4 linked regions of the Homo sapiens genome follow. The protein of the gene in region 2 interacts with the protein of the main gene of each other region in a pairwise test. Each region holds a gene or a part of one and is shown on either strand. Other genes may lie near its edges.

The links.
Region 1: the proteins of SYNJ2BP (region 2) and FAM210B interact in binary tests that used the Homo sapiens proteins (3 or more experiments, as listed by UniProt).
Region 3: the proteins of SYNJ2BP (region 2) and SLC7A8 interact in binary tests that used the Homo sapiens proteins (3 or more experiments, as listed by UniProt).
Region 4: the proteins of SYNJ2BP (region 2) and DLL4 interact in binary tests that used the Homo sapiens proteins (3 or more experiments, as listed by UniProt).

Annotation. Positions count from the first base shown.
Region 1 is NC_000020.11:56,354,331-56,361,979, reverse strand, and holds the start of FAM210B (protein FAM210B, mitochondrial), read right to left. Parts: upstream 3,007-7,649; 5' UTR 2,975-3,006; coding exon 2,789-2,974; intron 1-2,788. UniProt on the Homo sapiens protein: Plays a role in erythroid differentiation. Involved in cell proliferation and tumor cell growth suppression. Involved in the metabolic reprogramming of cancer cells in a PDK4-dependent manner.
Region 2 is NC_000014.9:70,372,085-70,379,106, forward strand, and holds part of SYNJ2BP (synaptojanin-2-binding protein), read right to left. Parts: intron 3,688-7,022; coding exon 3,592-3,687; intron 1,048-3,591; coding exon 907-1,047; 3' UTR 1-906. Other genes in the region: SYNJ2BP-COX16 protein, read right to left, coding at 949-1,047, 3,592-3,687. UniProt on the Homo sapiens protein: Regulates endocytosis of activin type 2 receptor kinases through the Ral/RALBP1-dependent pathway and may be involved in suppression of activin-induced signal transduction.
Region 3 is NC_000014.9:23,124,781-23,131,668, forward strand, and holds the end of SLC7A8 (large neutral amino acids transporter small subunit 2), read right to left. Parts: intron 6,778-6,888; coding exon 6,681-6,777; intron 5,020-6,680; coding exon 4,870-5,019; intron 3,585-4,869; exon of another isoform or gene 3,417-3,584; coding exon 3,239-3,416; intron 2,564-3,238; coding exon 2,397-2,563; 3' UTR 515-2,396; downstream 1-514. UniProt on the Homo sapiens protein: Associates with SLC3A2 to form a functional heterodimeric complex that translocates small and large neutral amino acids with broad specificity and a stoichiometry of 1:1.
Region 4 is NC_000015.10:40,924,964-40,932,339, reverse strand, and holds the start of DLL4 (delta-like protein 4 precursor), read right to left. Parts: upstream 3,001-7,376; 5' UTR 2,672-3,000; coding exon 2,606-2,671; intron 2,494-2,605; coding exon 2,224-2,493; intron 1,716-2,223; coding exon 1,658-1,715; intron 838-1,657; coding exon 574-837; intron 170-573; coding exon 109-169; intron 24-108; coding exon 1-23. UniProt on the Homo sapiens protein: Involved in the Notch signaling pathway as Notch ligand. Activates NOTCH1 and NOTCH4. Involved in angiogenesis; negatively regulates endothelial cell proliferation and migration and angiogenic sprouting. Essential for retinal progenitor proliferation.

The sequences.
Region 1 (7,649 bases), on a different chromosome or scaffold from region 2:
TTTGAGACAGATTCGTGCTCTGTCGTCCAGGCTGGAGTGGAGTGATACGACCTTGGCTCACTGCAACCTCCGCCTCCCGGGTTCAAGCGATTCTCCTGCCTCAGCCTCCCGAGAAGCTGGGACTACAGGCACGTGCCACTATGCCCGGCTAATATTTGTATTTTTAGTAGAGACGGGGCTTCATTATGTTAGCCAGGCTGGTCTCGAGCTTCTGACGTCAGGTGATCCACCCACCTTGGCCTCCCAAAGTGCTGGGATTACAGGCGTGAGCCACCGCGCCCGGCCTCATCTCTAATTTTAAAAAAAGGAAATATTAATGCATATAATCCTCACAACAACCTTGACTACTGTCAACCCCACTTAACAGAAGAGGATCTGAGAAGCCCAGAGAGGTTGAGTAATTTACCAAGGATCACACAGGGATTACTGTCAGAGCTGGGATCCAAACTCGCTGAGTCTGGGTCCAGGGCCTTTGCTCTGAACAACCATGCTATGTTACTCCTCGTGTATTCATGAGTGTCTCCTCTGTGCCAGGCACTGTTCTCAGTGTAGGGGACAGAGCAATGGAAAAAACTGACAAAACCCCACCCTCGATGAGCTTATGGTCTTATGGGAAGGCAGGGACAATAAACAGAAGAGTAAAATACCAGGGCTGCTACCTGTGACAAGTGCCATAGAGAAACACCAATGGGGCGGGAGACAGGGAGTAGGAGGAATGTTAAATAAGGCCATCAGGGAAGGTCTCCCTGAAAAGGTGCCACTGGAACCAGAACTGACGGAGACAAAAGGACACTGGGGCTCTGGGAGAGCAAGTCATCTGCCTGAACTCCCCCTACGTCCCTGGAAGGAATAAGTGGCACAGGCAGGCGGGGCTGCTAGGCGGTTTACAGGACATGGAATCATGTTAAGACAAAAAGGCAGGTCTCTTCTGTGGCTTTCCCTACCCCTCTTACAGAGACCCCCTGCCAAGGCAGCGTGGGTGGGCCTCTTTGGCTCTTAATTAAACACCTGGCAAATTTGGAGAGCCCAGCTGGGCAGCACACTCCTACCTCCCGACGAGGGTGGGCGGCCAGAACAGACGACAGGGGAGGTTCTGGGCTCTGGCCAAGCCCAGACCCTCCCTGCACTGCTCCCAGGCCCTGCTGGGGACGCGTTTTCTCAGGCAGATGAGTTATCTTTTGTCCTAATCTCCTTTGAGGTTCTGATCCCACTTGGGTTTCTGCCGATTTTACCACGGTGCAGAAGAAACAAGGACAGCTCACGGGGCCCTGGGGCCTTGTGACTGTATATATTTACTGCAATTATAGTCATTTCTAACCTTAATTTAGGACACACCAGATGCCAGGTATGAACATATCTCATTTTACATTCATATTCTATGAAGTCTGAATTATTAACGTCCCATTTTACAGATGAGGGGCCTGAGATAGAGAGAAGGGAATTTGATCAAAGTCAACAACAAGTGAGTAGAGAGAGGAATCCAGGGAGTCTGAGGCCAACTCTTTGCCACTGTATACACACACACCGCTCCAGTGCCAGGGCCTGAGCTGGGGACAAGGTCAATGTGGCTGACAGGCAGGACAAGAGGCCATTCCAGATGAGTGCAGAGAAGACCCACAGCCATGGGGTGGAAGCAGGCCCAGTGGAGGCATCCGAGACCTCACAGGTCGTTAGAGAGGGCTTCCCGGAGGAAGGAACAGCTGGGCTGGGCCCTGAAGAATCATCAGGAGGCGGCACGGTGTGTGCAGAAGGTGCCACTCTGGAGAGGATCCCCAAGACCTGTGTGCCACCTGTCGGACTGGAGAAGGCAAGGAAGGAAGTTGATCTGGGCAGGAGGCATGATGAAAGCCTGGGTCCAATCCCCATCCGCTCCTTACTGAAAAGCTAGGAAACGGTCAGGAGATGTTCGCTGGGCCGGCGGCACTCCGCTGAGGCCTGCACCAGCTCATGGAGTTGTCTCCCAAACTCTTGCTGGGAAGGTGCTATTTTTGGCCCTCTAAAGGTCAGAAAACAAGCTCAAAAGCCTTCAGGACTCGGTCTGAGGTCACCGGGCGATGAATGGAGGGGCCCTGTCTGCACCCAGGCAAACAAAGAGGCTCCAGACTGCCAGGCCGGATGCGCTCCGGGCTGGACGCCGGCTCCGCGTGTCTGGGCTTGCCATTCCTGGACCGCCAGACTTCATTTACTACTATTTTTATTTAAAAAGACTCACTTGGAAGAAAGTGATAGATTTCTTGAAAGGAAAGCTGGTATGACTGCTCTGAAGGAAAACCAGTTTTCACTTAGCACCAATGGAAAGTGACGGAAATGAAACATAACAAACAGCACTGTGGGTTTCTTGCCCGCGGCTTCCCTGAGGACGCCTGCTCTTCCACTCAGAAGAAAAGGGAGGAGCAGCGAGCGTCGGGAGGTGTTCAAAACACAGCGAGACCCAGCCAGAAGGCCTGGACAACAACTCCGCAGGCAACGTGTGGAAGTTCAGACCAAGTCAGTCGGCTGCGCCCCAGCCTGGCTGAGGCTCTGCAGACCCGGGGCTCGGCCGAAGACTGCGCGACCTTGGGCAGAGCGCCACACCTTCCCGAGCCTCAGTTTCTCTGGCTGTCAACTAGGAGGATCGCTTCCTTGGCTTGCAGGGATTTGGGGTTTCGGGGACCCTGGAAGAGCTCGGTCCCGGGCAGCTACAAGTGCAAAGGCGTCCTTGGCGGAGGCGGCCGGACCCCGGCGCGGCCCTGCGGACGTCTGGGGACCTGGACACCGCCCGGGATCAGGGTCGGGGTGGGGTGCTTACCTGGTGGCCGCGGCAGTCCCCGCGCGCCGTGCGGAGCAGCCGGGCGTCTAGCCTGGGCGGGAGCAGGGCCAGGGCCAGGGGCGGCGGGGCGCAGGGGGCGGTGGCGCCCAGGAGCCAGGTGGCGCGAGGCCGGACCCGGGCGCCCACCCTGCCTGCCGGACCCAGCAACGCCAGCAACCCGGCCATGGTGCGCAGCTAGGCGCAGCACCCGCGCCGCTGACCCGGGAGGCGGGCGGAGGCCGGGGAGGGTGGGCGGAGCTGACCCGGCGAGGGCCCTCCCCGGCCCCGCCCGCCGGCTTCGCCGCCGCGCGCGCGCGCTGGGCGGGACTGAGGAGGCCTGTGCACATCCCCTTGGCTCACCCGCTAGCTCCGCTCCTCGGGAGCCGGAGTCCAGGGCTGGTGGGCGGGGCTGAAGGAGCGCGCCCCGCCTCCTCTCCGCCCACCAGCCCCGCCCCTTTGGGGGTGGGTGCAGGTCTTTTCAGGGTCTTGGGCTTTCTAACTGTGGTGTGTAGTTGGCGGGTTTCCTTATTCTGCGGGCACAAAGGTGGGCGTAGGGCCGTGGCTTATGAGCTTTTCTCCCTGCAGAAATGGGTGAAATCTGAAAAAAAATTATAGATATGTTTACGTGTTAGCTCCAAAGAAGAAAATAAATATGAGAATTGATATTAGTACATGTTTAATAAAAAGTCCTCTGACCCTCATAGATTGTTGGCGTGAATGTAAAGCGAAAGATGGTGTGGCAGTTTCTTGAAAAGTTAGACATACACTAACCATACAACCCAGCAACTCCACTCCTCGGTAGCTTCTCAAGAGAAACAAAGGCTCGACACTCAAAGACTAAAATGTGAAGACACCAATGTTTGTAGAGATCTTATAAATATTAGTCAACAATTAGGAATGCCCATAAACTGGGACGTACTGTGGCACAAGTCTTCAATGGGACGCAATGCAACAATTAAAGGGAACAGACTACTGATACATGCACAACATAAATGAATCTCAAAGCTCTTATGCCAATTGAAAAAATCTAGGCACAAAAGTCACACACTGGAGGATTCCAGCTACATGAAGTGCCCAGAATAGGCAAAATCACAGAGACCTAAAACAGATCCGTGGTGGCCTAGGGCTGGGAGTGGGAAATGAGATTGACTGCCAAGGAGTGGGAGGAACGTCTTGGGGTGAGGGAAGGATCCTAAACCCAGATTGTAGGGATGGTGACAGCTGTGTAACTAAAACTCGTGGGACTGTACACTTAACATGGATGAATTTTATGCTGTGTAAATTATACTTCAATAAAGATGTTCTGGCTGGGTGGAATGGCTCATGCCTATAATCCAAGCACGTTGGGAGGCTGAGGTGGGAGGATTACTTGAGCTCAGGAGTTCAAGACCAGCCTGAGCAACATAGCGAAACCCTGTCACTACAAAAATAAAAATAAATTAGCCTGGTGTGGTGGCATGCACCTGTAGTCCCAACTACTCGGGAGGCTGACGCAGAATTGCTTGAGCTCAGGAGGTCCAGGTTTCAGGGAGCCACGATGGTGCTACTGCACTCCAGCCTGGGTGACAGAGCGAGACCCTGTCTCTCTAGAAAAAGAAAAAGAAATATATTTTACAAAAGATGTAATATTCTATTAGTCAACTGCAATTCAACTCAACCAAGCTCTTACACAGGCACAGAAATGATATTAAACACATATGCATTAAAAAATATTTATTACATAAGATGGAGTTATAGCTGTGAAAGTAACAGGGTCTGTTGGAGGGAGGTCCTAAAGTGCCCCTGGATGGGAATCCTTCCATTTAAGTGTCTGCAAGAAGCTGGGGAAGAGTGCTTAAGGGTGCAGATTGTCTGTCAGGTTGGCCCTAGAAGTCCAGCTGTGTGATTTGGAAGTAGTGACTCAACTTCTCTGAGCCTTGGTCTTTTCATGTGTAAAATGAAGATAATAATAGTTTCCCCCATGAGATTGTTGAGATAATTCTTTGACACAGTTCTTGGAAAGGGCTTCACTCAGTGCCTGGTGCACAGAGAGGGCACACACGTTAGCTGGGATGTTGTAGAGATGCCTTGCCTGAAGCCCCTCTGTCACCCGGTGACAGTGCCACCTCCAGATGGCATCTGATCTCGACTTCCTCATGGTTCCCATGATTTTCTTTCTTTTTTTTTTTTTTTTGGAGATGGAGTCTCGCTTTGTCGCCCAGGCTGGAGTGCAGTGGCGCGGTCTCAGCTCACTGCAACCTCAGCCTCCCGGGTTCATGCCATTCTCCTGCCTCAGCCTCCCAAGTAGCTGGGACTACAGGCGCCCGCCACCACGCCTGGCTAATTTTTTGTATTTTTAGTAGAGACGGGGTTTCACTATGTTAGCCAGGATGGTCTCGATCTCCTGACCTCGTGATCCTCCTGCCTCGGCCTCCCAAAGCGCCCGTGATTTTCTTGTCACCAGGCCTTCTTCATTCATTTAAGTTTCCTGCCCAGGCTTCATGGGCAGTTGAGTTTGTGATTCATGCTATATGCTTATTAGAGAAGAGAAAAAGGTAATTTTGTTTTTCCCTTTAAATTTGACAGTAAATATAATACTGTAATTATAGACTTTAGGTTCTTTTTTTCTTCTTCTAAAAGTGAAGAAACTTTTGCTTTTAACAAAATGTATTGGAGCTGCTGCCTGCCTGAACTTGTGACAGTTTTGTTTTTTTCTTATTGTGTCAGCTCTCTTTGTCTCTCTAGAGCAGCAGCTCATGCATGAACTATATTTATTTTAATTTCTTCATTTTCATGAATAGATAATGTGTTCTCACGGTTCAGATTTTTAAAGGTACAAAAAGTCTACACAATGACAAGCTTCCTTCCTATCCCAGTGACCAGTTCTCCTCATTTTTTTCTCCCTAGAGACAAACACTGTTACCCGTTGCTTGTGCATATCCTTCTAGAAAATTTTACATGTGTGCAGGCAAATTCCTATGAACGGTTTTCATTGCTGTTTTTACCCAAGTGGGGCATAGTATACACAGTGTTCTTCACCTGGACTTTTTTTGCTTCCATTATATTTTAGAGTTTTCTGAATATGTACACAAAAATCTTCCTTATTCTTAAAATCTGCTTAGCATTCCAGTGTATTCCAGGGTGCTGTAATGCTTTAACCAATCCCTTGTGGGTGGACCATTAGGGTATTTAGGGTATTTTCCAGTCCTTGTGATCATAAACCATGCTGTGATGAACCAGCGGGTATTTCTGTCACTTGCCGTGTTTAAGTATGCCTGTGTAATAAATTCCTCAAAGTGAAATTGCTTAGTGAGAAGATATGTGTATTTGTAAATTTGAATAAATGGCAAAATTTCACTCCATAAAGGTTGCAGAGTACAGCAAATGAGAGTTTTTTGTTTGTTTGTTTGTTTTGAGATGGAATCTTGCTCTGTCACCCAGGCTGGAGTGCAGTGGTGTGATCTCAGCTCACTGCAGCCTCTGTCTCCCAAGCTCAAGTGATCCTCCTGCCTCAGCCTCCTGAGTAGCTGGGACCTCAGGAGTGCACCACCACGCCTGGCTAATTTTTGTATTTTTAGTAGAGACGGGGTTTCACCATGTTGGCCAGGCTGGTCTCAAACTCCTGGCCTCAGGTGATCCGCCCGCCTCGGCCTCCCAAAGTGCTGGACTTACAGGCATGAGCCACTGCGCCTGGCCAAGAGTGTCTATTTACCCCGACTCTAAATGGTGTCTTTAGCAGAGAAATGTAGGACTGACTTTTATGATCTTAACTTGAGAATCTGACATTAAAGGCAGCCATATAAGGCCAGGCGCGGTGGCTCACGCCTGTAATCTCAGCACTTTGGAAGGCCAAGGCAGGCTGATCACCTGAGGTCAGAAGTTCGAGGCCCGCCTGGCCAACATGGTGAATCTCAGTCTCTACTAAAAATACAAAAAATTAGCCGGGTGTGGTGGTACATGCCTGTAATCCCAGCTACTCAGGAGGTTGAGGCAGGAGGTTGAGGAGGAGGTTGAGGCCCCTTGAACCCAAGAGGCGGAGGTTGTGGTGAGCCGAGATCGTGCCACTGCACTCCAGCCTGGGCAACAAGAGTGAAACTCCATCTTAAGAAAAAAAAAAAAGGTCTTCATCCTTGTCATCTTTGCATTGAGCTGGCTGAGGAGGAAAAGGAAGAGGAAAGGTTGTTCTTGCTGTCTCAGGGGTGACAGCGCCTATAGTGACAGCTACTCCGGAGGCTGAAGTGGAAGGATTGCTTGAGCCCAGGAGGCAGAGATTGCAGTGAACTATGATCACACCCCTGCACTCCAGCCTGGGCGACAGTGAGACCCAGTCTCAAAATAAAATAAAATAGTAAAATAAAAAATAATAATTAAAAAAGCAGGCAAGAAGTGCCTTTCAAGGTATTAAAATATGAAGCTGTTTTCTTCTTTTCGTAATCTCTCTCCCTTGAGTTGTCATGGTGATTTTTACTGCCTATTTAACAGTGTCCTTCTATTTTTTTTTTTTCTGAGACAGAGTCTTTCTTTGTTGTCCAGGCTAGAGTGCAGTGGCATGATCATGGCTCACTGCAACCTCAACCACCAAGGCTCAAGCAATCCTCCTGCCTCAGCCTCCTGAATAGCTGGAATTACAGGCGCATGCCACCATATCCTGCTAATTTTTTTAGTTTTTATAGAGATGGGTGCTATGTTGCCCAGGCTGGTCTTGAACTCTTAGCCTCAAGCGATCCTTCTGACTTGACTTCCTAAAGTGTTGGAATTACAGGAGTAAGCCACTGTGCCAGGCCAAAAGGAACTTTTTGAAGGTCACAGGGTTCCATCTGCAACCTTCATTCCTTTGCCTTGTAACATGACACATTCGCAGTTTCTGTGGATTGGGACGTGC
Region 2 (7,022 bases):
AGAATAAATATTGTTCTTCTAAGATTTTTAATTAGTTGCTTCAGTTATTACATTTTTTTCTATTTTTTTTTTAAATAGAGATGAGGTTTTGCTATGTTGCCCAGGCTGGTCTCCTGGACTCAAGCAATCTCCCACTTCAGGCTACCAAAGTGCTGGGATTTACAGGCATGAGCCACCTCTCCCAGTCTCAGTTATTATTTTAATAAATGAGACTGAACGTCCTCTTATAAGGCTCACTCCCTTGTTCCTACTACATTTGCTCTGTTTAAGTATCTCTTTAAATTCTTCAGTTAAGATCATCCCTTTTATCAGAAACCTAGACACCACAAAGTAGCTTTCTCACCTTTAATTCTCCATAGGGATCACTATTATACTATAATATTTGCATACGTATGTGTATATATGTATTTGCTTTTTTAAAAAAGTAAAAATGCTCTTCTCACTCTTTGTCGATATAGGCACCCAGGTACGTAGTTAGAAATTAAATAAAGGCCACAATAATTTCCCAAGGAAGATCATTAAAAAGAAAAATCCTTTCTTCCTCTAATATCACATAGCTGGCCTTTATGGCATGCCAGCTAAGAAAAAAGGTATTGCCTATGGTGACAGGAAGACTCAATCTTTCTCTCTTTGGGTTGTAGCTGAATTTCTATCAAAAGTCCTAGTAAAATATATAACTCCTCATTTGTTCTAAGCCAAGTCTTTTCTTCAGTTTTCCTTCAAACAATACCTTTACTTTCCCATTAGAATATGAAGAATTGGAGACTGTGAACAGCAAGGTTTGGGGTGGGTATCAGTCACTTCAAATCTGGCTATGCAGAGAGAGGGAAAGACATGGCAGAATAGCAGGGGTGGAGGGTGAGTGAAATGTATCTTCATTGGGAGTATTGAAAGAGAGCAAGTTTTTCAAAGTTGTTGCCGGTATCTCATGAAAGCCCAGGCTGCTACCATGGTGAGGGCAAACACTGGCACCAGCACCATAAATATGGGAATACCACTTGGGTCCCCTTCACCTCGATGTCCTATAGGTCCATTCTGCACCTGTAACTGGAAGGGAAAGAAAAATGTTAACTCTAGTGACTAATGTGTGTTTGCAACTGAAACGCCCAGGTTGATACATCACCTGGGTTTGTAGACTCTAGACCACCCAAAACTGTAACCCCCAGCAATACCTAGCAGAAGGAGTCCTCTCTTTGTCCTGAGCTGATGCATCAGTGTCACAGGATCTTTGGAAAGAAAATAGGTCTAATGGGGAGGCATTTAACCTTGCTGACCTAAAGGGACCCGTGAGGGCAAGTCAGGTAATTTCTGTTTCTGTACTGCCTCTACCTTGCTATTTGTGTATCGTATCAGGAAAATGAAGACATGAGATAAAACCTATGATCTTATAGGGAACTTGGATATTACTTGGTGAGGAAGAAGGGGGATCTTTCTGGAAATGTTTACTTAGATAATCAGTCATCAAAATGTAGTAAGAGCAGATGTGGGCAATGTCAACATAGGTGCAATACCAACATACGTCCAATGCCATTACTTGAAAAATGCTTTCCAGATCCCAGAAGGCACCCAACTCCCTCCAAAGATGGGGTTTTGCCCTTCATCTGCTCATTTCTAATACTAGAGAGAGATGAAGGTGAATCTATATGGAACAGATGTAAAAAAGCAAAAAGAAATTATATCCTAGTGCTTATAATTTTCTATTGGCTAAGTGTTTCCTTTTGAGGCTGGATGGTCTTCATTTTAGTGATGGTTTTCAGGGTAGCTCTTCTTAATATCAACTTTTAGTGGCTAACTTGCAATAATTATGGCATCATCGTATTTCAGTTAAACTGCCTCATTACAACTCATAAAACTGACACTTCAATCTGAAAGGCAAGACTGCATGAAATACCATTATACCCTCTATTCCACCTCTATGTTTTTCATTCATTTGCTGATGAGCTGTCCTGAAAGGACATGCTCAATAAGAAGGCATGGTTTTTAGGGCTAGGCCAATTGCCTGAACATAAGGGTCTTTTTTATTAGGAATTATTTATGGATGTTTCCTTAAAAGTGAACACTGGAAATAACTTCTCACATACCTTCCAAAAGAATTGTAATCATATTGAAGTGTGTCCCTATATTTACTTGTTTTTATCTACTGCACAAATGCTCCCATGCTTTAGAAAGAGAAGAGCCAAGGCAGAAGCAACTGATGACCAATATTATCTCTTATTAACCTGTTTTCTAATCCATTACACCCAGATTCTGCTTGCAACTGGTTGTTTTCTCAGGTATCTTTCACGTTCTGCCTTCTCTACTTTTTTAGGAACTCCTCTAAATGTTCTTAAGCTTCTAAATCCTTAGCCACTGAGTGAGGAAGAGTGCACCTATTTAAGAAGTAGCAAATTGATTTAATTTAAAGGCACATGGAACCTGTTTTGTGAATATGCTCAGAAATTCTCAATGCTATAGGAGGAATTATATCTACCCAGGCTTCCCTTTACATCATCATCCAAATTATAAAACACTTGGAAATAAGAAACAGATGCAGGGATAGGTGCTGCCTTGACTGAATTCTGAATTCCATTTCCTTTTTCCTGGAGTTCTCCTATGAACACTAAAGATTTGGTTAAGAGGGTCACCAAGTTGATAAATGAAGGGTTCATGGCAGTGACAGGGAAAAGCATATAGTGGGTACCAGAAAACCCACCATCTTTGTAGTGTTTTATCCAATGGTTTTATAAATAAGTTTTCAGCGGTAGACATATGGTTCCTTCCCTACCAAAAAGTAAAATTGGCTACGTTTTTTTACCATCTTTTTAATTAATTAATTTATTTATTTTCCATTGGTCCATGTCACTCTTAAAATTTTTTATTTATTTTTATTATTATTTTTTTAAGAGATGAGGTCTCTCTATGTTGCCCAGGCTGGTCTTGAACTCCCGGGCTCAAGCAATCATACCACCTTGGCCTCCCAAAGTGCTAAGAGTACAGATGTGAGTCACCACACCTGGCTTTTCTTTAATCATCTGTTTTAATTTGGTTGTCAAGCTTTATCTTTAAGGCATATTATCTTGAAGCAAGGACCTTGGTTATAAGCCATACTGTTGTGAATTTCTCTTTTTTTTCTCTTTTTTTCTTTTTTTTTTTTTTGAGACAGGGTCTCACTCTCTTGCCCAGGCTGGAGTATAGTGGTATGATCTTGGCTCACTGCAACCTCTACCTCCTGGGCTCAAGCAATCCTCCCACCTTAGCATCCCAAGTAGCTGAGACTACAGGTGTGCACCACCGTGCCTGAATTTTTTGTATTTTTAGTAGAGATGAGGTTTTGCTATGTTGGCCAGGCTGGTCTCGAACTCCTGGCCTGAAGTGATCCGCCCACCTTGGCCTCCCAAAGTGTTGGGATTACAGGTGTGAGCCACCGTGCCTGGCCTGAATGTCCTTCAATGATAAGCAGAAGTACCAATGGACCCCTCCCTTTGCCTGAGAAACTCTTCAGGGGAGTGAGGGTAAAACAAAAAGCAACACTGAAGATTACACACATTGGGCTTATTCAGAAGTACAGTGCAAAAGCCTGGTGCCAGGTTTCTGGCTCAAAGTGATACCTACCCTGTGCTGCACTCTCAGAGACACAGCATAGCCTGCATTACGAAAGAGGTCTACAGCATCCTGGTGCAGCAGGTTCTTTAGGTCTTGGCCATTTACCTGTCAAAACACCAAAGAGTAGTAAGAAAGGAAGAAGGCTATTAGAAGTCAACAATTTATTTTCAAATGGCCAAACTTTAAATAACAAACTCCTTCAGAGCAAATTGCAAGGACTAGGAGTATGGGCAAAGTTACTTAGAGCTCAGAACTTAGAACTTTTTTCATTTTCAAAACTATGTTTTCCTAGAACTGAAGTTCCACAGGCCATCTGAAGAGAACCTATGTAAAATAAAAAGTGGTCTCTCCTTCCTCTTAGCTTCTATGCCTGTCTCGTTTTGACACTTGGGAATCTGTTACCGTATTAGCATTTCTTCCATGAGTGTTAACCTGCTTCCTTAAAGATAGCATGGTCTTCCAGGTTACCACCCTAACCTTTATATTCCTAAGCCCTGGCATTGCCAGCTGCAACTGTAGAAATATAACTCTATGAAACTCTCCACCAATTTATTTTGATGTCATATAAATCTATACTAGCCCATTCTATTGGGCTTTTCATAGTGAACAACTTCCTGTGATTCCACGGATACTCCTATCCATTATATCCAAATTAGTAAATTAGTCATTTTTTAATCAAAACTTAGTAAAAACCATATTCCTGTGATGATATAAATCCTTAAAAAAATTTCAGTGTAGGTCACTCCTACCACTTAGAGGTGAGAGATGTGAAGGAATACTTGTATTAATACTTTTTGCAGTTAGGAGTGACATCGGCCACAAGTAATAATCTATCTATCCTATGCTGTATTCAGTGACACAGCACAGCCCACTTAGTGCAAGATTACATATCTTTTATACTTGTCAATGTCATCGTTAACAGTAGCAGCAATAAGAACATCTGATATATTTCTTTTGATAGGTTCTGTACTTTACATACATTATCTCTTTTAATTCTCATGATAACCCTATGAGGTAGACATTATTTTTATCTCGTTTCCACAGATAAAGAAACTTGAAGCTCAGTGAGATTTGTGCTGGAGCTAGGGCTAGGATTTGTAAATAATGAAAGAAAGATCAAAGTGTCCTTGCATTTCACTGTTCCTTCTGCACTGTTATTCTTCCATCTTGACTCACCAACTATCCTCTGCTCAGCTAATGCTCAAGTCACTCCCTTACTCAACTCTCTCATTTTCCTTGTCGCAATCTTCCTTCTCCAAGGCACTCATAATCTTCCCTCTACTCTCTCTCTTGCCAATACAGTTGGTGAATGAATCTACCAACACTTCTGCCCTATAGACAGTCTACCTTTGTAAACCAATAGTTTCCAACTCCATTCCACTTCAGTCACCAATTGACGTAAACTTAGACTTCAATATTAGACATGCTTCAGCTCCAATATCTCAAACTCTTAAAAACCTGACAACAATTTCCACTCTTTTCATACTTTCTATTCATCTACTGAATTTCCTCCTTGTAACCTTTTTAGACTTTACTTGCATCCTTGCCCATCTAGGAGTTCCTGTTGTAATTTCAACAAAGCACTTGGTAAATCATTAGAATCCTTTGTCCCCAAGATCTTCTGCCATCTTTCCAGTCCTGGGCCATATTCTGCAATCCTTTTCTTGCCATCATTAAGTTGAATATTCTGGGAGAAAGGTATATTCTCATTCTCCACCATAGACCCATACTAGCTGACTCCAGCTCATCCTTAAAACCGCTTCTACTCATTTGCTGAACTCCTTAATAAACACGCAGTGATAGCTGTTCCAGACCTTTTTCCACCACCGTCTCCAACCCCATTTCTACCTCTCTCCCTAGCTGATTCCTTTATCTTTTGTGAGAACACTGAGGACTTCTGATAAATGCTTTCTACATTTTCTTTCCTTCTCCCTCAAAGTTTCTTTATATCTTCTCACTACTCCTTTCCCCTAGTCTCTGAATTAGATCTATTTCCTTTTCAAGGTGAAACCATCCACTGATGATCTTGATCATACTTCTTCTAACCTCCTTACAAAACTCACAGACACTCTGTCTTCTTGATTACTTAACTATTATCTTTCTCTGCTCCTTCTCTCAACTAAAATTATACACCTCTATAAAGAAAACAATACAACTATTTCTTGGAACGCATTATCACTCTCCTCCCATCTTCTTTCCTCTTTCTTTGACTGCTAAATTTGTTCTAAGAACTGTTTGCATGCACTACCTCTATTTCTTCAGCATTCATTCTCTATTCCCCTGTAATCTCACAATGTATGAGGTAGAAGGGAAGAACATGTTTTTCTAAAGGTCACCAATAACTTCCAATCACCAAATCCTATAGCCGTTTTTGTCTTCAGACCACCTCCTCCCTTTTGTAATTTTCTCCTATCTTGGCATATGAACACTTAGCATTCTTTGTTCTTAAATTATTCCTTTCCGGATTTCCTCTTCCCTTTCTTTCTCCTTAAGGTGAGTCAAGGTTTTTCAGTATCAATCCTCTATCTTCTTTCTTTCTCTCCCACTGTGAGCTTTAACAGTTTCAACCATAATCTGTAAGATAACTCCCAAATTTGTATCCCTACTTGTACTTCTGGATTTGCCAGTTTCTTGCTGGATGCCTACACCTGTATACTCTGCTAGACCCTAATTCAACATATCCAAAACCTCTTTATTACTTCCCACAAAAATCAGAATACATACCTTGCTTCTTATTGCCACTATCATTCCTTCAAACTTTTTTTTTTTTTTTTTTTTTTGAGACAGAGTCTTGCTCTGTCCCTCAGGCTGTCACAGTGGTGTGATCATGGCTGACTGGAGACTTGAACTCCTGGGATCAAGTGATTCTCCTGCCTCAGCCTCCGAAAGTGCTGGGATTATAGGTGTGAGACATTGTGCCCCAGCCCAGGCTAAAATTTTAATAATAGTTTTAAACTCTCTCTGCTGTCAACTTTCATATACAATAGATTGCCAAACTCCACAGTCTAACACTATGACATCTCTCATACAGTATTTTCTTTCCTATTGCCTATTTTAGGCTGTTGACACTAAAAACAAAACAAAAACTTGGGACCCCAATCCACCATGTCAAGAGAAAAAATTAAGCTGCAAGCTGAGTCATGCAATAAACTGCTTTTCCTTTTGTTCCCAAGCAGATAGCTACAGATAACAGGTTAAATATCTCCACAGGTAATTACTCTATGTTCACCTTATCTTATGTAAAGTCCCAACTTACTAAGCAAAAGAAAATACGTAATTGACTATTCCCTTGCCTGCTCCTTTCCTCTGGCAACATGTGGATTACCATACCTTCCCTCTTTGCTCTTCAGCCTACTTTAAATATTAAAGCCCTCAAAATCATCTTTGGAGAAAGGAACATACCTGTCTCCCAGGCATGTCCTTAACCTTGGCAAAAGAAA
Region 3 (6,888 bases), about 47 Mb from region 2:
ACCATGCCCAGCTAATTTTATCTTTTGTAGAGACGAGGTCTTGCTATGTTGCCCAGGCTGGTCTCAAACTCCTGGGCTCAAGAGATCCTCCCTCCTCGGCCTCCCGAAGTGCTGGGATTACGGGAGTGAGCCGCTGTGCCCGGCCAAGAAAAGCAACTTCGAAAAGTGACTAACCAGCTTTCTTCAGCCCTCCCTGTCTGTAAAGCCAACCTCTTCTGCTCAACTCATTGGAATATGTATTCTATTTTATGGAATGAAGTGTTGCCTGATTCCAGAATTACAGTAAACAATTGAGATCTGTAAATTCGTTGTACTTTTGTCTTTTGATGTTTTTGGTTCAGAATGAGAGTCAGTGGTTTGAATGCACTGGCATTGAGTCCCTAGGATAGCTAGAAGTTACAGAGAGCGAGAGCTTTTAGGAATGTCATTCTGGAAGGAACCTGGCAAGATCTCCTAAGAGGAAATGCCTGGTGACTCTGTCTCAAAAGGTTACTTAATTACCAACACCACCAACTTCATTTCCATTTTAAATTTTATTACATCAAAAGAAAAAAACCTCTCCACAAAACAAATCTCTAAAACCTACACCAAACGAAAGAAATTATCATTAAGGTTCTAACTCCATCCCCCAAAACAACCTTACATTAAAAAAAATCCAAAAGAAATAGAAATACCAGCTTCAAAAATATTTATCCAAAAAGTAAGGCATCAACTTTACAAAAAAATAATTGAAGGAGGGGAGGAAGTTGGAGGAATGAGAAAAGAGGGAATAAGAAGATGGTCCCCTGACCCTCCAGGGGCCAACCCCAGCCTGCCGGGCATCTACTCTGAAGGGGTCACAACTCAGACCAAACTTGGCATCTCACCAACTATGGGGTGGGCAAGCTGGGCGGGGAAGCTGGGAGACACCATCCAGGCCAGGAAGGGCTCCTGTGTATTCCAGTTTAAGCAGACAGAATTCGGGGTGGGGGAGAGAATCCCGATTTGTGATAAAAGGATCCTAAGTCCTTAGTGCAGCAGGAGTGGCTGGGAAGGTTGCAGGGCCCACAGCAAACTCCATAGCCTTCCTTTGAAGCCCAGGGAAAGGTCAGAGGCTGCCAGCCACAGAGGAGGGCCTTTTTTGAGGATCTCCAGAGTGGGCGCCCTGCTGCCACTACCCTTTCACCCTGCCCCAAGACAGCATGACACTGAGACCTGCGAGGAGTGGGGGATTATTGGAGTTGGGGATGGATGGGAAAGGAACTGGGCTTCAGCCAATGCTCTCCTCAGTCTCCCAGGGTATGGAATGGGCACCTCTAGGGAGGGGGAAAGCACCCTTCCTCCCAGGGAAGGCATTTAATATCAGATCCGTCCTGAGGGTTAGAAATAGGGGAGTATTTTTAGGCCAAGTTCTTGGATGGGAGGTGACTTAAGGCTGATCTGGCTCTGATCTCAGGCCTGAAGGGCTTGGGGATCCTTCGTACCTGGTCCCAAGCCAAGGCCCAGAGAGGAGAAGTGCACGGTGGGGGCGGTGGTGCTGGCTGTGTGCGGGTGTGCTGGGAGTGGCTGCAGGGATAGCAGGGGACTGCTCCTTCCTGCGGCGGGCAGGTGGAGTTGCTGAGCAGCTTCGTCATTAGGAGAGAGATGCCCACTACCTTAAAAATCAGAAGCTTTTTGGCTTCTGGAAGCTTTGGCACCATGTTGGGGGCTGGATGCAGGAGGCAGGGGCAGGGCTGGGTTTCTGCAATCTGAACCTTTCTCAATATGTTCCTCAACCGCCTGGCTTGGGGGTGGAGAGGCTGTTCTTCTCCTTGGTCCTTAGCTCTGGGAGTTGGCGTCCTGAGGAGAACCGAATTCTGGACAGGGAGCCCTGGCTGGGGTGGGTGCAGGTATGATGGGGAGGGGCAGGAAAGAGGGCAGAGGGAAGCATCCCCTTGGATTTTGGGTCCCTGGTGAACAGATAGGGTCTTGGGTCTCTCCAGCTGACCCCTTGATGGGGACAGAATTGCTTGAGCCTGTCCCCCCACAATGCAGCTCCTGTGGCCTCTCCTCTCTGAAGGGGCCTCCCTGGGAGGGAAGGCAGTAATGAGCTCCGGTTCCTGAAGAGGCAGCTGAGGGTGTGGCCCGGAGGGAGGTCCTGCAGGGCACCTTGGCATCTCCCCTCTCCTCCAGCAGCTGGGAGTGTGGGCAGCACTGGAGTGGGGCCTGGGACATGGACCCTGGGGTGAGAGGCTGGTTCTTTGGGTATGAATGTCAGTTTTTGTTTACAATTTCTCACCACCCACACCAAAGTCCTACCACTGCCTGACAAAAGCAGAGAGAGGGGTGTGTGTGTACTCGCATGTGTTGGCAGGACCAAGGCAGGGAGGTAGGATAAAAGGGGGAGGAAGGAGAGAGTAGCCAGGGAATGGTGGTCCTCAGGGCTGGGGCTGCCCCGCCACGTCCTTGTCCTTCGTGGGAGTGGGTTGGTACATGGGCTGCTGCTGCTCCTCCATGTCCTCATTAGCCTCCTCTGTCCCTGAGCCCCGCTCCACCTCGGGGTACACGACCACACACATCTTCTGGCTCACCAGGGTTAGCAGCTCTGTAGGAAGAGATCACACAGAAACCAGGCCAATGCTGAGTATCCCACCAACCTGGCCAAGTGGCCCCGGCCCTTCCTGGCTCTCCTGCTCCAGGTTCTGCCTCTTCAGAGCAGTCAGTGCGTTGAAGAGAATCCTCGCCACCTGGTCTGCCTCCTGCATCTCCCGCCGGCTACTCTTTGCTTATGAAGGCCCCAGCCTTCCCACCTTCCCTGTGCCCACTGACCCCTAAGTCCAGGGTCTCCTCTGGTCTCCACCCAGCCTCGGGCAGCTCTCACAGAATGGCTGACAGGTTGCCTATTTTATTTTAAAATTTTTAATAACAGAGATGGAGTCTTGCTATGTCGACCAGGCTGGTCTCAACCTCCTGGGCTCAAGTGATCCTCTGTCTCAGCCTCCCAAAGTGCTGGGATTACAGGCGTGAGCCACTGTGCCCAGCCCAGGTTGCCTATTCTTGCGGGTCTAAGGTCTGTGTGGAAATGCCAGCTGTTCTCTACCCTCAGAGGTCTCTGGGAAAAGGCATCTGCTTCCCCTGCTCTGGACTCTTCCAGGGCTCTGTGGACTGAGGAGAAGGTGAGCCTAGATCTCCTGGCCCTGGTGGCTCCCCAACCCCATCACTGACCACTGCATTCCAGCCCAGGAGGCCCTGAAGCCAGCCAGAGCCTCCAACAACTCACCAATGAAGTCACTGAAACACTTGGGCTTGTGTTGCCAGTAAACACCCAGGAAATAGACAGGCACTCCTGTCAGCATGATGGCCAGGCCAATGCCACACACCACCGGCTCTGACCACAGGCTGAAGACCAGCAGGAAGGCCCAGAACAGCAAGTAGATGATGGGGAACAGCAGGTTGATCTGTGGAGCAGAGGCATGAGGCGTATGAACTGTGTAGGCCACGTGGCCCCCAGGACTAGGGACTGGGGCATTCTCTCTCTTCTTCACCCACAGAGACACATCCTCAAGGGCAAAGGCTGGGCTTCCCTCGGCTCTGTGGTCCCACACTCACCCCTGGTAGGGCAGGGGCTATATAAACAAATGTTGATGAACATGGTCGGTCAGACAGGAAGAGGATGGGGAGGAGTTAGGGAGGAAACGATCCTCCTTGCCCATGTCCTCGCTCTTGGGTGTGGTTAGACAAGGCCTCATCATGCATGCCATGTGCCCGTGGCAGCCAGAGAAGCCCACAGGGATGGAGAAGCTTGCTGGCACATGGGTGTGTCTGCTGAGGTCCTAGGGTGGAGGGGAGGTGTGGCAATGCACAAGGTGCAGGCAGGAGACGATTCGAGTCACTCAGGCTCCCTGGTCCTTGCCCACTTCTGTGCAGGGCCCTTATGTGGGCACAATATGGCAAATGTCAGCTCCTTATGGGCCACATGTGGGGAGTTCCTGAGAGTATCCTCTTCAGGGCTCCAGGGGCAGTCCTGATTCGGCTGCCTTTCTCTTCCTTGTCTTCCTCGCTCAGAAGGGATGTGTGTGGTGGGGACATGGGGTTATTCTACCTCCTCTTCCCTCTAGCAGATTTTCTAAGTGTGAGAGTAGAAAATGGCGGTGGAAATGCCAGTGAGGAACTGAGAGATTTGGAGAGCCTTTGATTTTTCAGCTGGAAGGATCTTCTAGAAGCATCTAGTCACTGTTTCTAGAATAGGATTGTTCAAATAGCTCTGGAGTACACTCTATTCTTCTAATTCGTAGGAGAACTCATAATGCTCTAGCATGTCCTGTTCTGAGCAATCCCTTTAATTCCTATCACAGAGTTATATCTTGTAGCAATATTAGGTTCACTGAGCACCCTATATGTGTAGGACTGTGGGAGTTTATAAAGGGAGGATCATGGGAGGTTGCAGTAGACTGGAAGACTTCAAGAAAGAGGAGGTACTTGAGGCGCATTTGGAAAATGGTTAAAATGTAGATGGGCAGATGGGAGGAGGAAGTCATTCTGGGATGGAGACATAGCACATAGTGAACCCAGCTATCTGGAGGGACAAGGAGGAAGTGTTGGGGAGATAAGAGAACCTTGAAAAGTCAGCTGGAGTTTAAGGCTTAGACTGGTAGGAAACAAAGGAATGTCATGATGAAAGTCACATTTGATCTGACTTATTCCCCAGCTGCAGTCTGCTCCGATCTCATCCCCAGTGGAGAATGGAAATAGTGGTCCCATTCACAAATGGCCCTTGCTTTCCAAAGGGTCTGCTACCATCAGAGATGATGACGTGTGGTCAGCAGCTAAGAACAGAGGTGATTTAAAAATCTGAACTGCAGCTAGAACCATAGAGGAAGGGGAGGGGACCCCAAAGGGAGTTTCTCTCACCTTGATGGGGCGGGGGATATCAGGCTTCTTCCAGCGAAGGACTATCTGTCCAGCAACCGTGACCCCATAGAAGAGGTAGTTGATGAAGCCCACATAGTTGATGAGTGTGTACATGTCGCTGGTGACCAGCATCAGCAGGGTGGAGATGCACTGGGAAAGTGGGAGGAGCTCATCAGTGATCCGAAAGATATTCAGAGACTGGTATTACAGATTAGGGGCTGTCCCCCAGCCTCCAGGCAGATGATGCCATCGTATAATGGATGTCTCGAAATGGAGACTTTAGAACCTCCCCTAGTAACCCAATATGTTACAACATCTTTATTGCTAGGAAATCCTTTCTTATTACAGGGGTGATGATCAAAATATTTAACCACTCGTATGGCACGGGCACTAGCCAATTAGAATGGATACTGGACATAAGCAGCTAGACTGGCCACACTGGTATTACCTGGCTCTGTGTCAGCCCCGGTCTCATTTGTATGCCTCTGTTGGTTATAGCTCAAGCTAAATTCATTTTTTTAAAATCCCTTAGGGAAGATTGTTAACAACAGATTAAGGCTGTATTCCTGCCCTCATCCTTTTCTCCTGGCTGAGTCATCTATTTTTCTTCCTTCCTTTTCTTTATTAATTTCAAAACTGGTTACATAGCACTTACTGTGTGCCAGGTCTCTATGTTTAGCATTTGACAAAGATTAACTCACTTAACCCTCATAACATCCCTATGAGGTTTTCTTGACAGAGTCTACTTTCCAACTTCAAAATCATCTCTGTGGCTCTCTTGGAACCATGCTCCTCCCCTCTGATAACTTGTGAAGGTCAACAAAAGGTTCTGTTCTCTTGTGAGATCCGATGGTTAAAATAATCGAGAAGATTTTAATGGTTCTTGCTACATCTGCCTTTTAGTCACACTACTGCACCAATAGCTCTAACTGGAAAAAACAAAACAAAACAAAACAAAAAAATGTGTGTGGCCCACTGGGAGTACTGTCTTCTCCAGCCACCTTCGACAACCAACCAGTCAAGGTGACCTTCATCCTGCATCTGAACATTCTGAAATTGTACAGCAATGCTGTAAAATGCTCTTGGCTCCCAAGAGCTCTGTTATTCTGATTGCTAACTGCTTCACCAGTGGACCAAAGTCATTTTTAGTGTTTTATTCAGGATCCAGAAGGAAAATAAAAATAACTCAAAAGACTCAATGGGGACAAGTCTTTGTTCCTTCCTATAGCTCTCTCAAAATGATTCTACTCTGGGGATATTTTACTCCCATCTCTTTCCTGTCCCAAGTTTCCTTTGCACAGTTTCCAGTTTATCAGTCTTCCTCTATTATTTTTCGTATTTGGTGTACTGTTAACACTAACTTCATTTCAATGATGTTTCCCAAGAGACTGGCAGGCTGCCCTGAAGCTTGATGGGGGAAGTGGGTGTTTGCAGGGACCAACCAGCCAGGAGCAGAGGCCAGTGCTGCAACCCTGTGGTAACAGGTGCGAGGAGAGCCAAGGGAGATATATTTTTTTTGAGGCTGTAGAATCCTGAGACAGTCAGTTCAGTCTGACCCAAAAGGATGGGAGAACGGAAATAAGTCAGCCTGAGAGCCTTAGGTATTTCAAGACTCAGGATCTTTCCTTGCTATATCTCTTGATATTAACAAAGATGATGGGTATCATTTGCCAGATCCTCTAAGATCCAGTGAGACCTAGCAGCAGACTGCAAGGGTAACAGGGGTGTGTGTGAAAAGCATGAACTCCCAGCTTAGACTAGGCACAAAGAGAGGGAGGTGTGTGGAGAGTTACAGCAGGAAGGGCCCTTACTGTGAAGAGCAGGGCTGGGATTGGGGTGCAGCGCTTCACGTGGATCATGGCCAACACACTGGGAAGGTGGCCCTCTCGGGCTCCAGCGAAGAACAGCCTGTCAGGGAGAAAAGCAGGTCAGCCTGGGATAACCCAGGGACCACCAAGCCCCAGCTCCTTCATCCTTGCCTACCTTCTGCCCACACAGGGGCATCCCCACTCCAACCAG
Region 4 (7,376 bases), on a different chromosome or scaffold from region 2:
GGCCCTGCCAGCCTGGGCGGCAGCTGGGGAACAAGAGAGAGGCAGAGTGAGGTGAGAGGCCTTGGCCAAGGGAGGGCTCCCACTCACCACTTCCTGTCCCCTACTCACAGGCACTCTGCTGGCTTGCTGCAGTAGCCATTCTGTTCATGACAGCCCGAAAGACAGATAGCTAAGGGAAGAACACAGAGCTGGGTGAGGCTGGGATACCAAGGACTCTTAAGCCCCATTCTCACCTGCTGGCCCTGGGGATCCCCTAGCTCTCCTGGGCCCTCTTCCTACTCCTGGCCTCCCAGAGGAGCCCCGAGTGTCTTAAAGTGAAATAATGGCACAGGGAAGGAGAAGCCAAACTGGATGGAATGTCATGATGGGGTTCTTGTGGGCTTTGGCATGATGGGAGGAGCACTGGGAAGAGACAGGAGGTCTGAGGTCAAGCCCACCCTCAGCATCCCTGAGGCCCAGCTAGTAGGAGGCCCAGACCCACTCTTCAAGGGAGGCAAGCTGTGACCAAGAAGCTCCACTGTGTTTCCTCAGGGGACCCTCCCCTTCCACACAGGTGGGAGCTTGACTGCTTACGCTGTTGGCAATATTCCCCAGTCCAACCGGGCAGGCAGGACAAGTTGCCATCTGGCTGGCACACATAGTGGCCGAAGTGGTCATTGCGCTTCTTGCACAGGCGGGAGCAGTTGTCTCCATAGTAGTTGTCACTGCAGATGACCCGGTAAGAGTAGCGCAGCCTTGTGAGGGTGCTGGTTTGCTCATCCAATAACCAGTTCTGACCCACAGCTAGGGAGCCCTGGATGGCGATCTTGCTGATGAGTGCATCTGGTGGCAAGGCCTCTGAGGGGGCAGAGGGTCGGGTCAGGGAAGGGTCGCCAGTCCCCAAGGGTGCCAGTGACGGCTGGCCAATGTCCTTCTTGGCTGTGATGATGGTGATCAGCCAACCAATCAGCCCAGTTATCCAGATGACCCCCGCCTGCCAGCAAGAACAGGCCAGAGGGACCCAAAGCCCCGCTACGTAGCTGCCCTACGTGTGTGCATGTGCAGGGGGCCTGATAGTATTCAAAAAGGGGACAATAGAAGGATGTTAAGATATCCCAGGGTCTTGGAGGCAGATAGGGAGGGGAAAGAGGAAAAGAGGTCAAAATGGAAAAAAGAGAAAAAGAAAGAAAAGCTCCCCAGGCTAGAGAGGACCCTGGGAGCAGGGGGTCCTTTGGTGCCCATTCAGGGGTTCTGCCTCCAGAGGTGGGTAATGGTTTTCTTTTTTCCTTTTCAAAGTGAGAATTGTTGTGCTGCTGAAATATCCTTTTCCTCTGTGTCAGAACAACATCCCAAAGCCATTATTCCCTTTCCAAAGGAGCGGAATTCGCGAAAGGTGTAAAATACAGGAAGGGGCCCGTCAGCGGCGCTGGCAGCTTCAGCCTTTCTCACCGCCGTACTCCCCGCGTTCCCACGCCAAAAATAACCCGCAGGAAACGCAATTGTGCTCTGAGTCCAGGCAGCGAGCGGAATCCGAGCGTCCAGCGCGGGGCGCAGCTCCAGGCCAAGCTAAGCGTCCTGCCTCCCACCCCCAAGCCCGCACTTCCCCCGCCTAGAACAGATTAACTCTTTCGGCGCTGCGCCGTGTCGCCCCCCTGTGGTGGCGGAGCGAGCTACTCACCTGGCCGCAGGTCGTCTCCTGGCGCGTGCCAAGCTTCGATGATGAGCGAGAAGGTACCCTGGGAAAGGGGGTGGGGGGACGGAGAGATGGCGAGATGAGCAAGCGGGGAGAGGTGGGGGTGCCTTGCGGCAGCCTGTTTAATTAATCTAATTGCAGGATTCAGTTACTGCGCCCGGGTCAACATAACGGGGCTGTGCACAGTGTAGCGCTTGAGCAGGGAAGGCGAGAGGAGAACCCCCGGTAGAGGGAGGGTTGAGAGACGGGAGAGTGTAAGGGAGAGCCACTGGAGGAGGGGGTGGTAGGGTACCGCCCCAGAGTGGTAGGTAATGAAAATCGTGTCCCAAGAGCTGGGGACGGGAGGACATAAACTGGGAAGACGGAGACTGGTGAGAGCCTTTTCTGGGATCAGTCTCAGGAGAGAGTCGGGAAGAGCCAGGAAAGAATGCATCCTGGGCTTTTTGGGGGTGGGGGTGTGTGTACAAGGAAATCTGGGGAGGGGGCTTTGGTCCCAGGGCGCCTCCTCTCTCGGCTTCTGCGACCTCCCAGTGCGCCCAGGCTGTGCTCACCGGCCAGGTGAAATTGAAGGGCAGTTGGAGAGGGTTGCGCCCCCCGCCGCTACTGTCGTCCCGGACAGCGAAGGAGTTGGTGCCCAATACCGGCGTGGAGACGGTCCCGAAGGTGCAGGGTCCGGGCGAGACGACCGCCTGGAAGTGCTTAAGGCAGACGCGGAAGAAAGTCCGGCAGCCGGGCTCGCAAGGCCGCCCACTGGCCAGTACGCCGCGCTCGTTGATGAACTCCTGCAGCTGCAGCTGGAAGACGCCGGAGCCGGCCGCGCGCTATTGCACAGGGACCGAGGGAAGGAGGGAGGGGACCGGTCAGCTCAGCTGGTGCCCGGGGCTGAGGCCCAGAGCGCGGCAGAGGGGACGGAGAGGGCGCGGGACGTGTTACCTGCTGCCAAAGTGCCACCAGCAGCAGTAGCGCCCAGCCAGAGGCGCTCCGGGACGCTGCCGCCATCCCCTCGGGCGTCGCTCTCTCCACCCGCGGGCCCTCAATCTGGCTCTGTTCGCGACGCCGCTTTCCCGCGCGTCCGCCAGCCGGCGGGGTCCCTGAAAAGAGGCGCTCCTCTCGGGACGCTGCTCCCCTTTGGCCTTCTCGCTGGCTCCGCTGCAGCTGCCGCTGTAGGTAATCCAGGTGACTACGGCTGGGCGGCGACCGCGCCGAGGACGCGTCTTCTGTCTAATCCTGGGGCTGCAAGCGGGCTAGTGCCGGTGTACGCTGCACCAAGGCGGCTGGGGCTGCGGCTCTTGGCCTCGTGTTCCCGGCCTGCGCGCAGCGCCGCTACTGAAACCTGCGCGCTGGGGGCCTTCCTTATATATATTGGCTCCTCTCCTCGCCGCCTGTCACTCAGACTCATGGTCATTCTCCCCTCCCCTCCCGGCCTCTAGCTGCTACAGTCCCAGCGCCGCCCGGAGGGGGCCTCCGCCCCCGCCGCTCCCCCCTCCCCGTCAGCCAGTCGGGCGCAGGTCCCCGCCCCTCCGTGCCGCTCCCAACCTCTAGGTCCCCCAGCTCTGCGCGTGCCGAGGTGACCAGTCCTCCGTGATGGCGGGGTTAAGGGCTGAGACCCTGGCCGCCGGAGGATAGAGGGGTTGCCCGGTAATGGGGCAGGAGGTGAGTGGGTGGTTCGGGGATGGTCTTGGGGGCGGAGACACTAGGCAGTCCCTGTAGGCTGTGCATCCGCAGCAGGCGCTAGTTACCTAGTGTTCCAAAGCAGGTAAAAAGAACTTAAGCCCGGAATGCAAAAACCAGCGCTAGGGAAATCCGATCTCCTTTTCCTTCCTGGAGCTTCTGGAGCCCTTGTCTCAACGGCCCCCAACCTATGAGTGCCCACCCACCACGCGTCCCCAGCGCAGCAGGGAAGCCAGCAGAAGCGTTAACCTCTCTGTGGCCACTCTGAGCAAGGCTAGGGGCTAAGGGTCTAAGGCTCGGGGCCCTCTCTGTGCACCTGTTGGGCGTCTCCCTCTCTAGCTAAGGGGGGGCGTGCCCAGCGCGTGCCTTCTCCCTTCTGCCCCCTGCCAGGGCTTGGCGCGTGCCAGAGACCCAGACGCGCGGTCCCTGAGGTGGGGGAGGGCGGGGCGTGGTCCCGGAGGTAGGAGGGGGGCGCGTCCTCAGCTGTATGGTAATGAGGTTCTGGCCCCGCCTCCAGCGCGTCCCCTCACCTGAGTCCAGCTTCAGTTCCTGCGCCCACTGCCTCCCCCCACCCCAGCAGCCCCAAGCCCCCGGCCGCGCCCTGTCGCTCAGCTGGGGCAAGGAGGAACTCTCCTGACGCCAGAGTTGGCTCAGGCCACTGGAGAATCAAGGTGAGGGACTGAGGCCGGGTCGGCCCGGGTCCTCGCCTCATAAGGCGGGATGTGGGGTGGAACTGGAGGCTTGCGGAGCTGTTTGAGTTTCAGGCGGCTTCCCAAGTCTCGCCCGAGAGGGTCCCCTGGGTGGCCCCACTCCTCCAAGCGGCAGCAGCGCAGCTGCTTTCTCGGAACCCGGCGTGATCCCCGGAGACCGCAGACCGGGGAGGGCCGGCTTCTCCCAGTCTCAGGGGTGCCGGGGAGCTCTCTCTTTGCGACGCCGAGGGCAGCGGGGGCCCTGTGGCTTCAGCTGTCAGCCCGCCCGCGAGGTGATGGCTGTAGTCGGGCGGTAAGATCAGCGCGGGGGGGGAGCCGGGACGCGGCGCGAACCCGGGGGAGGCGGTAAGGGTGGGGGAGCGGCGAGAAGCCCAACAGCTGCCAATGCCGAGCATGGTCTGATTTTTTTTTTTGAGTTGGGTGGTGGTGGTGGAGGACTGGGGGACGGGTGTGGTGGGGGGGGGAAGGATGAGAAACAAGAGGTTGGGAGCGTGGGTTGGGGGAGGGGCGAGGTGAGGAGACGGGCTCCGGGGTCCCCCACGCACGGCCACCCCTCCCAGCCACCATCTGGCGCGAGCGGGTTGGCGTGGGGAACCGAGGTGGGGCGGGGCGGCAGATGGGCCCAGGCTGCGCTCGGGAGTTAATGTAGGTTATGGGCAGGCGGAGTCCCAGGCCCGAGGGAGGGGGAGTCCGGGGCGTGCCTCCCGGCGATCCTGGCAAGTGGGCTCCCAGATCTTCTCTCCGCCTATACCCTATGGATCCCTGGACTTGCCTCTCTAAGATGCCAGCGGGTGCCCCTTGCTCCCCTCCAAGCTGGCATCCAGCCCTACCTAGCCCTGTCCTCTCTCAACTCCAAATCCTGGCCCAGGAGTTAATAAAAACATCCTCCTTTTCTGGCGCTGGTCCTGCTTACCTGACCCTCAAGGGAGACATCTAGTCCCACACAAGGCATCTCTCCCAATACTGGAAAATCTGGAACACTCTCTACCCTCATACACGCCCAGACTAATGTGCCCAAATGTACTTTGCAAATTATCAAGGACCAAACAAAAGTTGGGATTATTATCTTCAGAGAGGCAGCACCCAGGAGATCCCAGAGATCTAGAAAGGCTCTGACCAGAAGAGGAAAGGGTTAAATTCTCAGCATCAAAAGACATTCATGAAACACCTATTTGCGGAGGCGCTGTCCCAGAAGCTCATTCCCGGGCTAGGACACTGCCACCCTTGGCCCTGGGTACCTACGAGCGCTCCCACACGCTGCGGTCGAGCTTTGCCCACATTTGCTGAGCAGGAGAGGGTCATGCTGCGGGTGGGGAGCCCAGTGCGAAGGCCGCAAGTGTTTCTGTCAGCCCAAAACTGGGGCTGCGCCTTCCTTCTTCTCCCACTCGGGACTTTCGGACTTGCGGGCGGAAGAACGCTACACGCGTGGTCCTGGGATGGGAGGCCACCGATCACCGTGGGGCTGGACCCCCATCGAAGTCGGCTGCCCCCGCCCCTGACGCAGACCCTCCACAACAGCATGGAAAGGGTGCACAGATAGACCCAGAGTCCGAAAGACCACTGACCCTCCGCAGGCCCAGGGTTCCTCAATTCGACCCGCACCCTCAACACTCCCCAACGTCGGAAGCGGGCGCAGGGTCGAGGCCTGGCTTCATGAAAGGCCCACCGCCTCTGCCCCTAGAGGCCTTCTGCTTCTGCTGTCCCCCTACGCTTGGCCATTGCGCATAGTCCTCCAGCCATAAGAACCGGCACTGAGGACCGGGAAGCGCTAAGGTCGCCTTCCAGCGGTGTCCCCAAGCTGACCCCAGGTTATTGGGGCGCAACAGGAGCCTCGTAGAGCCTCGGGACTCCTCCCCCGCAGCGTAGCCTCTGTGCCCTCCCCACGGCCGCAGGCGCAGCTCCGAGACCTTCAGCGCGGTTTTGCCTCTCCTCTCCCCAACCCCCTCTCAGGGGACGGCGCTCTTCGCGGGGCACACTGCACCCGGGTAGGAGCGCGGTGGGGGCCGGGCCACCGTGCCTGCTGGGCAGACCAGGGGCGGGGAAGCAGGCCTGGCTTGGGCGGGGCGCTTAAGCCTTGAGGGGCGCCGCTGCGGTCGCTGCGGAGAAGGGGCCACGTGCAGGGAGCGGCGGCCGGGGAGCTGCACAGAAGGCGTGGAGATTTGCAAACTGTTGCTGCCACATGGCTGCTCCATTCGATCCATTCACATTGAAATGAGGCCGGCGCGTGCCTCATCTGCCGCAGGGCGCTGCCACGCGTCAGCCCGGCCCGCCGCGTGCCAACTGGGGCAGTGGGACTGGCAGAGCCTGGCAGCCGTGGGGGCGCAGCCCGGGGCCTGAGGCCAGGAGGGTGTTGGGGGAGGGAGTCGAGCTACCCTAGCCATTCAGGCGCCGCAGTTTCAAGGACCTTGGCCCTACAATTGGGAGTGAGCTGGCGAGAAAGGCCCAGGACCGACGGGTTTCAGAGGGGGGCCGGGATCGATGCCGCCGCTCCCCGCAGATGCGCCCCGGCAGGGCTACTCTCCATCTGCCGCTGCTCGCACCTGCCGGTCAATAAATCGATTTTACAATTTAATGCAGCAGCTTCCCGCCCGCCTGGGACAGATGCCGCAGCAGAACCACCTCCGCCCTCGCCCCTCCCCTCGAGGGGCGCCAGCGGTTAGGGACGGGATTCCCGCTCAGCAGGCGGTGCCCCGCGTGGCCTCCTTCACCTCTCTCTGGAGCCCCCACAAGGAACCGCCTGCTGAGGGTTTTTCCCGCGGGACAGAGTGGGTTCCCCATAGAACAGGCCTGAGACTGGAGAGAGGAGTGAGGAAGGTGATGACTTGGTGGTGGCCTTGAGAACTCATCTGGGGGCTTCAAGGGAGGAACAGGATGCAGTGACTGATGATAAGAAGGGCCCCGGTGAGAAGGAAGGGGTAGGGCATGGGCGCTGAGGGACACCGAACTCTGAAGAATCTTGGTCAGGGGGACTGAGCAGAGATGGGGAGGAGGCAGGAGGAACGAGTCTCTCCCCACCCTCCAGGTGAGTCTGGTGAATAAGCCTGACATGGACCTGCTTCTTGGCACTTCCTAACCATGTGGTCTTGGGCTTGTAACCTAACTCTAGCTCTACACTCAGTTTTCTCATCTGTGCAATGGGATAATAATAATAGGGATGGCCGGTGTGGTGGCTCATGCCTATAAGCCCAGCATTTTGGGAGGCTGAGGAGGGCAGATCACTTGAGGTCAGGAGTTCGAGACCAGCCTGGCCAACATGGTGAAACCCTGTCTCTACCAAAAAAAAATACAAAAAGTAGCCAGGCATGGTGGTGTTTGCCTGTAAT